2 linked regions of the Homo sapiens genome follow. The protein of the gene in region 2 purifies or fractionates together with the protein of the main gene of each other region. This does not show direct contact. Each region holds a gene or a part of one and is shown on either strand. Other genes may lie near its edges.

The links. Proteins that work in one complex are often made in the same cells at the same time.
Region 1: the proteins of CMTM6 (region 2) and TMBIM4 purify together in Homo sapiens (co-immunoprecipitation; one large-scale study listed by IntAct). This does not show direct contact.

The regions. Positions count from the first base shown.
Region 1 is NC_000012.12:66,149,368-66,153,024, forward strand, and holds part of TMBIM4 (protein lifeguard 4), read right to left. Parts: intron 3,010-3,657; coding exon 2,904-3,009; intron 1-2,903.
Region 2 is NC_000003.12:32,496,246-32,499,902, forward strand, and holds part of CMTM6 (CKLF-like MARVEL transmembrane domain-containing protein 6), read right to left. Parts: intron 1-3,657. UniProt on the Homo sapiens protein: Master regulator of recycling and plasma membrane expression of PD-L1/CD274, an immune inhibitory ligand critical for immune tolerance to self and antitumor immunity.

The DNA of each region.
Region 1 (3,657 bases), on a different chromosome or scaffold from region 2:
CCAGGAGGCAGAGGTTGCAGTGAGCCAAGTTCGTGCCACTGCACTCCAGCCTGGGTGACAGAGAGAGACCCTGTCTCAAAAAAAAAAAAAAAAAAAAGAAAGAAAGAAATTTTTTTGGGGGGGGCAGGGCAACATGATTATACTATATTCTTGCTATTTATGACAAGATTTTAGGAAAGAAATCCCATACACATTCAAGTATCTAAGGAAACAGGATGGTATAAATAAGAGTTAAGATAAGACTAGGAAAACATGATAATGTCCCTTTAAAACATATACACACATGCTCCTCGAGTTACAATGGGGTTACATGCCAATACACCCCACTGTAAGTTGAAAATATCGTAAGTAAAAAATGTAGCTCAGAGTGTCTTTGGTTAAAGAATCACCAATGCTTAAAGTCTGAAATTTCGTGGTTGCATATTGCTTTGACACCATCATAAAAGTGGAAAACATTAAGGTGAATGATTCTAAGTTGAGGACTATCTATCTATCTGTCTGTCTGTCTATGTGCATGCATACACACACACACACACTCCTACTAGGGCAAGATAAGATTCACCTCCTTTCTTATCTTGGTGGATCAGGACCAAAAAACTCCTAACGTTAAAGGTCCCTGAGTAATTTAAGGAAATGTATTGTACATACTTATTTGTTAAACCATTTTTAGCTATGGGCATGATGAATAGATTTAACAATCAGTGATTATCTTGCCTATAAGCATTTGGTTGATACTTTTCTAGTGGGACCTCTCCCTGCTGGGCAAAAGTTGAACCACACCCTCTTCCCACACAGAAATCAGTCTTTCTGAGAGGAGGCTACATGTAGATGCGAAGAGGAATTCTATATGGCCGTCTTTTTTTTTATACTTCCTCTTTCCTGAGACATAGCTGACTAGGCCAGGAGTTGGCTCTTACCCAAGGCCTGGCAACCCATATATTGACTAACAGCCTACAATGTGACCTGTGCCAACAACCAAGTGTACCAATCAGATTCTTTCTCTCTCCTTTCTTCCTTCCTTCCTTCCTTTTCCTTTCTTCCTCCCTCCCACCCCCCTTTCTTTTTAAGACAGGGTCTCACTCTGTCACTGAGGCTGGAGGGCAGTGGCGCAATCTCAGCTCACTGCAACCTCCACCTCCCGGTTTAAGTGATCCTCCTGCCTCAGCCTCCCAAGTAGTGGGACTACAAGCACGTGCCATAACATCTGGCTAATTTTTGTATTTTTTGCAGAGACAAGGTCTCACTATGTTGCCCGGGCTGGTCTCGAACTCCTGAACTCAAGCAACATGCCTGCCCCGGCCTCCCAAAGTGCGGGGATCACACAGGCGTGAGCCACCACGCCTGGACCAGATTCTTTCTGACTCAGGAATCTGAACTCAGAGATTGAAGCAATGGCAGTGGGAGCTAAAGTTAAATGACTCTGGGGGCAAACAATGGGTCATATAAAAATTAAAGATAGAAAAAGGGAAAACAATGTATAAGGACAACTGAGGTAGAGAAGAGATGTAATAGAACAAGGGAGAGGGGAACACAAACATTTGTCACTGAATTTCCTATGATATCATCATTTCTGGAATCTTCCTCCAGTTCTCCAGTTCATCTTCTTGAAGAGGATTTGGGTTGGTGGGTTCTCAAGCTCTTACATCCTTAAACTCCTTGTTATTTGCAATAACTTGAGTTAGAATTGACAATCTTGCAAACAAAAGAGCTTAAGATTTAAATGAATAATCTTTCCTATTACTGAAACTTTCAAAGTCATCAGCTTTTCATTTTAACACAAACTCATTATCAGAATTCATAAACTTTTTAGTTTAAAGCATTTTAATCTAATCAATAGCTTTTCCCACTCGTATTTGACTACAAGTATTCTTTTTTTGTTTGTCTGAGATGGGGTCTCACTCTGTCACTCAGGCTGGAGTTTAGTCACGTGATCTCAGCTCACTGCAGCCTCCACCCCGCAACCCCGTTACAGTGATCCTCCCACCTCAGCCTCCCAAGTAGCTGGGACTATAGGTGCACACCACCATGCCCAGCTAATTTCTGTATTTTTTTGTAGAGGTGGGGTCTCACTATGTTGCCCAGGCTGGTCTCAGACTCTCGGACTCCAGCAATCTGCCCACGTCAGCCTTCCAGAGTGCTGGGATTACAGGCATGAGCCACTGCACCCACCCAAGTATTCTTAATATTACTTTGGAATGTTCTGAAGTAAATTTTTAGGTTAGAATCTAGTCATACTGGATGAGAAGAGGCAAAATAATTTTTTAGACAGATAACTTGAGGCTTATCCCCTTATTCTGGTCATATTCTAAACTGAATTTTCATAAGTGGTAGTTTGGGTTTTAATTTTCACAAATATCTCAACATACATGACTTAAAGTTGGGTTCTCCCAACTATAATTTTGAAAAAAGTTACTAATGCACATAATTTGAGCAAAATGGTTCTTTAAAAGATCAGAGTGATAAGATAATAACAAAGAAGAGTTAACAATAAAGAATTTGAATTTTATGAAATTAAAGCCACAACATAATTTTCTCCAAAGAAAATAATAGAATATTAGAGGTAGAAGGTATCACAAGGATTTATCTACTTTAAAATTCTCATTTTACATATGAAAAAACTTAGACACAGAAAGGATAAATGCCTTGCCAAGTGTCACATAATCAGATAGCAGCAAAGCCAGGTCATCTATTCCAATTCAGCATTTTTTCCACTACATACTAATATTTGAAACTAATAAACTGTTAAAAGTTTTAAAAGACTATAAAATTACAATTAATTTCCTAAAGTACTCTAAAAAAAACTCATTAATTTTGTTCTGCCGTTGTTATATATGTATTATATATGCATTTATTTAAAACTCAGGAATAATTGTTAAGGGAATAGAGAAAGTCAGAGTACTCACAAATCCAAAAAGTAGGTACAGGTTAAGGGGATACTTATGTCTGTTTAAAATCAACGCAAAAATCAAACCCAGAGATCCGAGGGCAAACAGCAAAATTAAGGCAGGACTGAAAGACATAATATTAAGTGTTTCAAGTTAAAGAAAAAATAGCATGAGCAGTATTATCAAATTTAATAAAATTTATCTATTTTATATGTTTATGAAAGTACAGGGGAAAAAATCTGGAATGATCCACACCAAACTATCAAATTATTTTATATCTGGAAAATTTGAGGAGTACAAGGTAGAAAGGAGCCTCAAGACAAAGAAAAGAGCCCAAAATGAATGGGGGAAACTTTTTCTTTTTACCATATAAACTTCTATCACATTTGAATAATGTTTGCAATTAGTATACTAATATTATACAATAAAGAAATTTAAAAATAACAACTACTTTCTTAGGATATTTGCCATATGGCTGTAATTTAAATTAAAGAATTTTACCTCACATAGCAAACTAATAGTTCAAGACTCCCCTTTGGTGGGGAGAAGGGAAGGGAGGACAGAAATTCTCTACTTCTATGAAAATATTCATTAGTTCTCCTTTCCTTTAATATAACAAAACTGTATCATGGAAATAATTATGATTCATCCCTGATTAAAGATCAGGGATGAATCATGTGGAGCTCTTTTGAAAACTTCTTGGTGAAATTATGCTAGTCATGAGCCAAAACTAAAATGAACGCACATTTATTTTTCAAGTACTGTCTTAGGC
Region 2 (3,657 bases):
AGTTAAAGGCCAACAAATTGGCACTACAAGCTATAGTCAATATGAAATTCTGTCGGCCAGATGCGATGGCTCACATCTGTAATCCCAGCACTTTAGGAAGCCAAGGCGGGAGGATTGCTTGGACTCAGGAGTTTGAGACCAGCCTGGGCAACATGGTGAAACCCCATCTCTACCAAAAAAAAAAGAAAAAAAATTCTCTGCCTACCCATCTCTGAGGCTACTAACCTTTGTAAGCTCCCACAGCATTATGCAATTGCTAGCTCAAAGTGTACTTGAACTAGCAACACTCCAACACTGTTCTACGTATAGGAAGATACAAATGATGGAGTAATAAGCTCAATGTACAAGAAACAATAATAACAATATATTTTATACCACATTAACTGAGCATTCATTATATGTAGGTTAGAAAATCTCAAGAAAATGTTCGAAGGAGCCGGAGAAGGATGAGTGGAAAAGCAGGACTCAAACCAGGCAGAGACACAAACAGAACCTGGATAGACAGAGGACATTCTAATTCTAGGTGGAGGATGAAAAAGAACATATTCATAAGGGCAAGAATTTGCATAGTAAATCCAAAAATGATAATAAGGCAACTGACCTAACTGGATGGGGATGAAGAAAAAAATGGTTTAGGAGTTGGGTGTGGTTGTGTGATGATCATGCAAGGGAATATGGATGTTTAGATGAAGGCAGGAGGGAACACCTGTCTGGTTTAGTAGGTTAGAAAACAGGAGGAACAGAGGATTGGGTGGGGCCTAAAGGAATTCTACAGTTCCGAGTGTAGGAGGGAAAAGAGCAACTAACTTCTTATCAGCAAGCCACAGGAAGTGTTTTTAAAAAAAGAAAACTCCTACACCGGGCGCGGTGGCTCACGCCTGTAATCCCAGCACTCTGGGAGGCCGAGGTGGGCGGATCACGAGGTCAGGAGATCAAGACCATCCTGGCTAACATGGTGAAACCCCGTCTCTACTAAAAATACAAAAAAAATTAGCCGGGCGTGGTGGCGGGCGCCTGTAGTCCCAGCTACTCGGGAGGCTGAGGCAGGAGAATGGCGTAAACCCAGGAGGCAGAGCTTTCAGTGAGCCGAGATCGCACCACTGCACTCCAGCCTGGGCAACAGCGAGACTCTGTCTCAAAAAAAAAAAAAAAAAAGAAAGAAAAAACTCCTTAAAAAGCAGCAAGTAAACATACTCCAAACTGTTACTCATACCGTGACACCTGGTAGTGTGAGGGGTGGGAAAGTGGTTTTATTTTAATATTTTTAGTTGATTTTTTTTTTTTTGGTAAGCAGACACTTTCTTGTATTAAAAAGAAAAAAGTGTAAAAGTTGGCCGGGCGCGGTGGCTCACGCCTGTAATCCCAGCACTTTGGGAGGCCAAGGCGGGTGGATCACGAGGTCAGGAATTTGAGACCAGCCTGGCCAACATAATGAAACCCCGTCTCTATCAAAAATACAAAAATTAGCCGGGCATGGTGGTGCACGCCTGTAGTCCCAGCTACTCAGGAGGCTGAGGCAGGAGAATTGCTTGAACCTGGGAGGCAGAGGTTGCAATGAGCCGAGACTGCACCACTGCACTCCAGCTTGGGTGACAGAGCGAGGCTTCGTCTCAAAAAAAAAAAAAAAAAGTGTAAAAGCTGAAGGAACAATTTCGAGAAATGAGTGGTCACCAGCATTAAATGCCAAAGTGGTCAAAAATAGGAAGAGAGAAAAAATGTCACTGAATTAGCTAAGAAATTCATGGTAAACATAACCCATAAGTAAAAAGGCTCAATTATTATTTTTTGGTAAACAGTTTTGTTCTTAATAGCATGAAGTCATCATACTAAATATTGCTTACTGAATATTAAGCTAAGTACTTAACAACTGTATACCCAATGTAACTCCTTCTAATGACATAAAATTTTACCCAAATATAATTAAGAGAATTATCAAGCTTTTAATGTCAGGAGGGCCCTTAGCGGATATAGTCTCCCACTCCCACGTTTACAAAGATGGAATTAAGCTACTGACAGGTTAAGCCCCAAGTTAGCTCGGCACAGACAAGAACCCAAGTCTCTGACTCCCACTCTGTACTTCCTCTCTCCCCATGAAATACTGTTTGTTAAATTCCTTTTACGAGTATGTATGTTTGTGTAGGTCTTCCCTGTAAGACTGGCTTTTTGAAGTTAAACCCACAGTTCTGTATATTTCCTTTAATGTATTAAATCATACATTAAAAACAATTTGCTAACATCAACAGATTTGGGAAGTCTCAGTGACTAAAACATGATCTTACAGTTCTGGTGATTTAAACACTGGATAATTACTATCCTGCCTCTATCTCTCCATTTCAGTTTCACTACCCCTTCTTTTTTTTTTTTTTTTTTCTGAGATGGAGTCTCGCTCTGTTGCCAGGCTGGAGTGCAGTGGCACGATCTTGGCTCACTGCAATCTCCACCTCCTGCCTCAGCCTCCTGAGTAGCTGGGATTACAGGTGCACGCCACAATACCCAGCTAATTTTTGTATTTTTAGTAGAGACGGGGTTTCACCATGTTGGCCAGGATGGTCTCTATCTCCTGACCTTGTGATCCGCTCACCTCGGCCTCCCAAAGTGCTGGGATTACAGGCATGAGCCACCGCACCCGGCCTCAGTTTCACTACCTTTTCTGAAATTTCAAGTGTTCCTTAAAACGGTCACTATATTAAATACGAATTCTCCATTAATTTAACAGTCTACTACTTATATTTTATAAAAAGAACTTTTAAATGTTTGCCATTAATTATAAAGCTCCATCTACAAAATGATATGAATTATAAATTAATGAACTTTACTATTAAAAACTTTGTAGTTATAAGTAAAGTTCAAATTTAAAAATCCATTGGTCTGAAGAAACAGGCCAGGCCTCCCTTGCCTTAGGCAAATATTTACTCTTACAAAGGTTCAGATATAATTTGCTGACATTACGGGATCTTCCTCAAGGTAAAAATAGAACATTTCAATTTACTATACATCAGTTTTCATATTTAAATAATGAAAAGAGCATCAATATAAGAAATGCTTCCAAGTAATCTGTTTCTTGGTACTTATAGGGTAACATTATTTATAATGTAATATATTGAAAAATCACTGGCGATTTCTAAAACTGCTTGCCAGATGAGCGACTAGAATTCCAGTACTGTGCAGCTATCAGGATAGTCAACTGACAGCATGGATACAATGTGGAGCTTGTTGCACAGAAAATTCCACATATTTAGGTCACTGCACCAGCGTATCAGCAAGCAATTAGGTTACCAAACGTCAATTCTCCCCTTAAAACAAAAACTCCCTCAAAAACATTCACAAAATAAAACATGAACATGTGGACAAATCTAAGGATAGTATAAACTGAAAAACTGCATAAAGTTAGGACTCCAGTAACTCCTTACACTAAATTCTCAACTGAGTATTTCTTCTTAAGCTCTGGAAGGGTGGATGGTAGTTGGGGGATGCTTAGGGTTTTAACAAAACTTAGGTCATATCTAAATGGCAGACACAGCTATGTTAACTTCAAGAGATAGAGAAGTTACGTTCTTTTATCTCTAATCTCCTCTGTGTACAGGCTCCACTCTCTATCCCTTCAATATTCAATTCAGTTCTGTAATAGCAAACCCCATGGAGCCTCAGAGGTTTGAA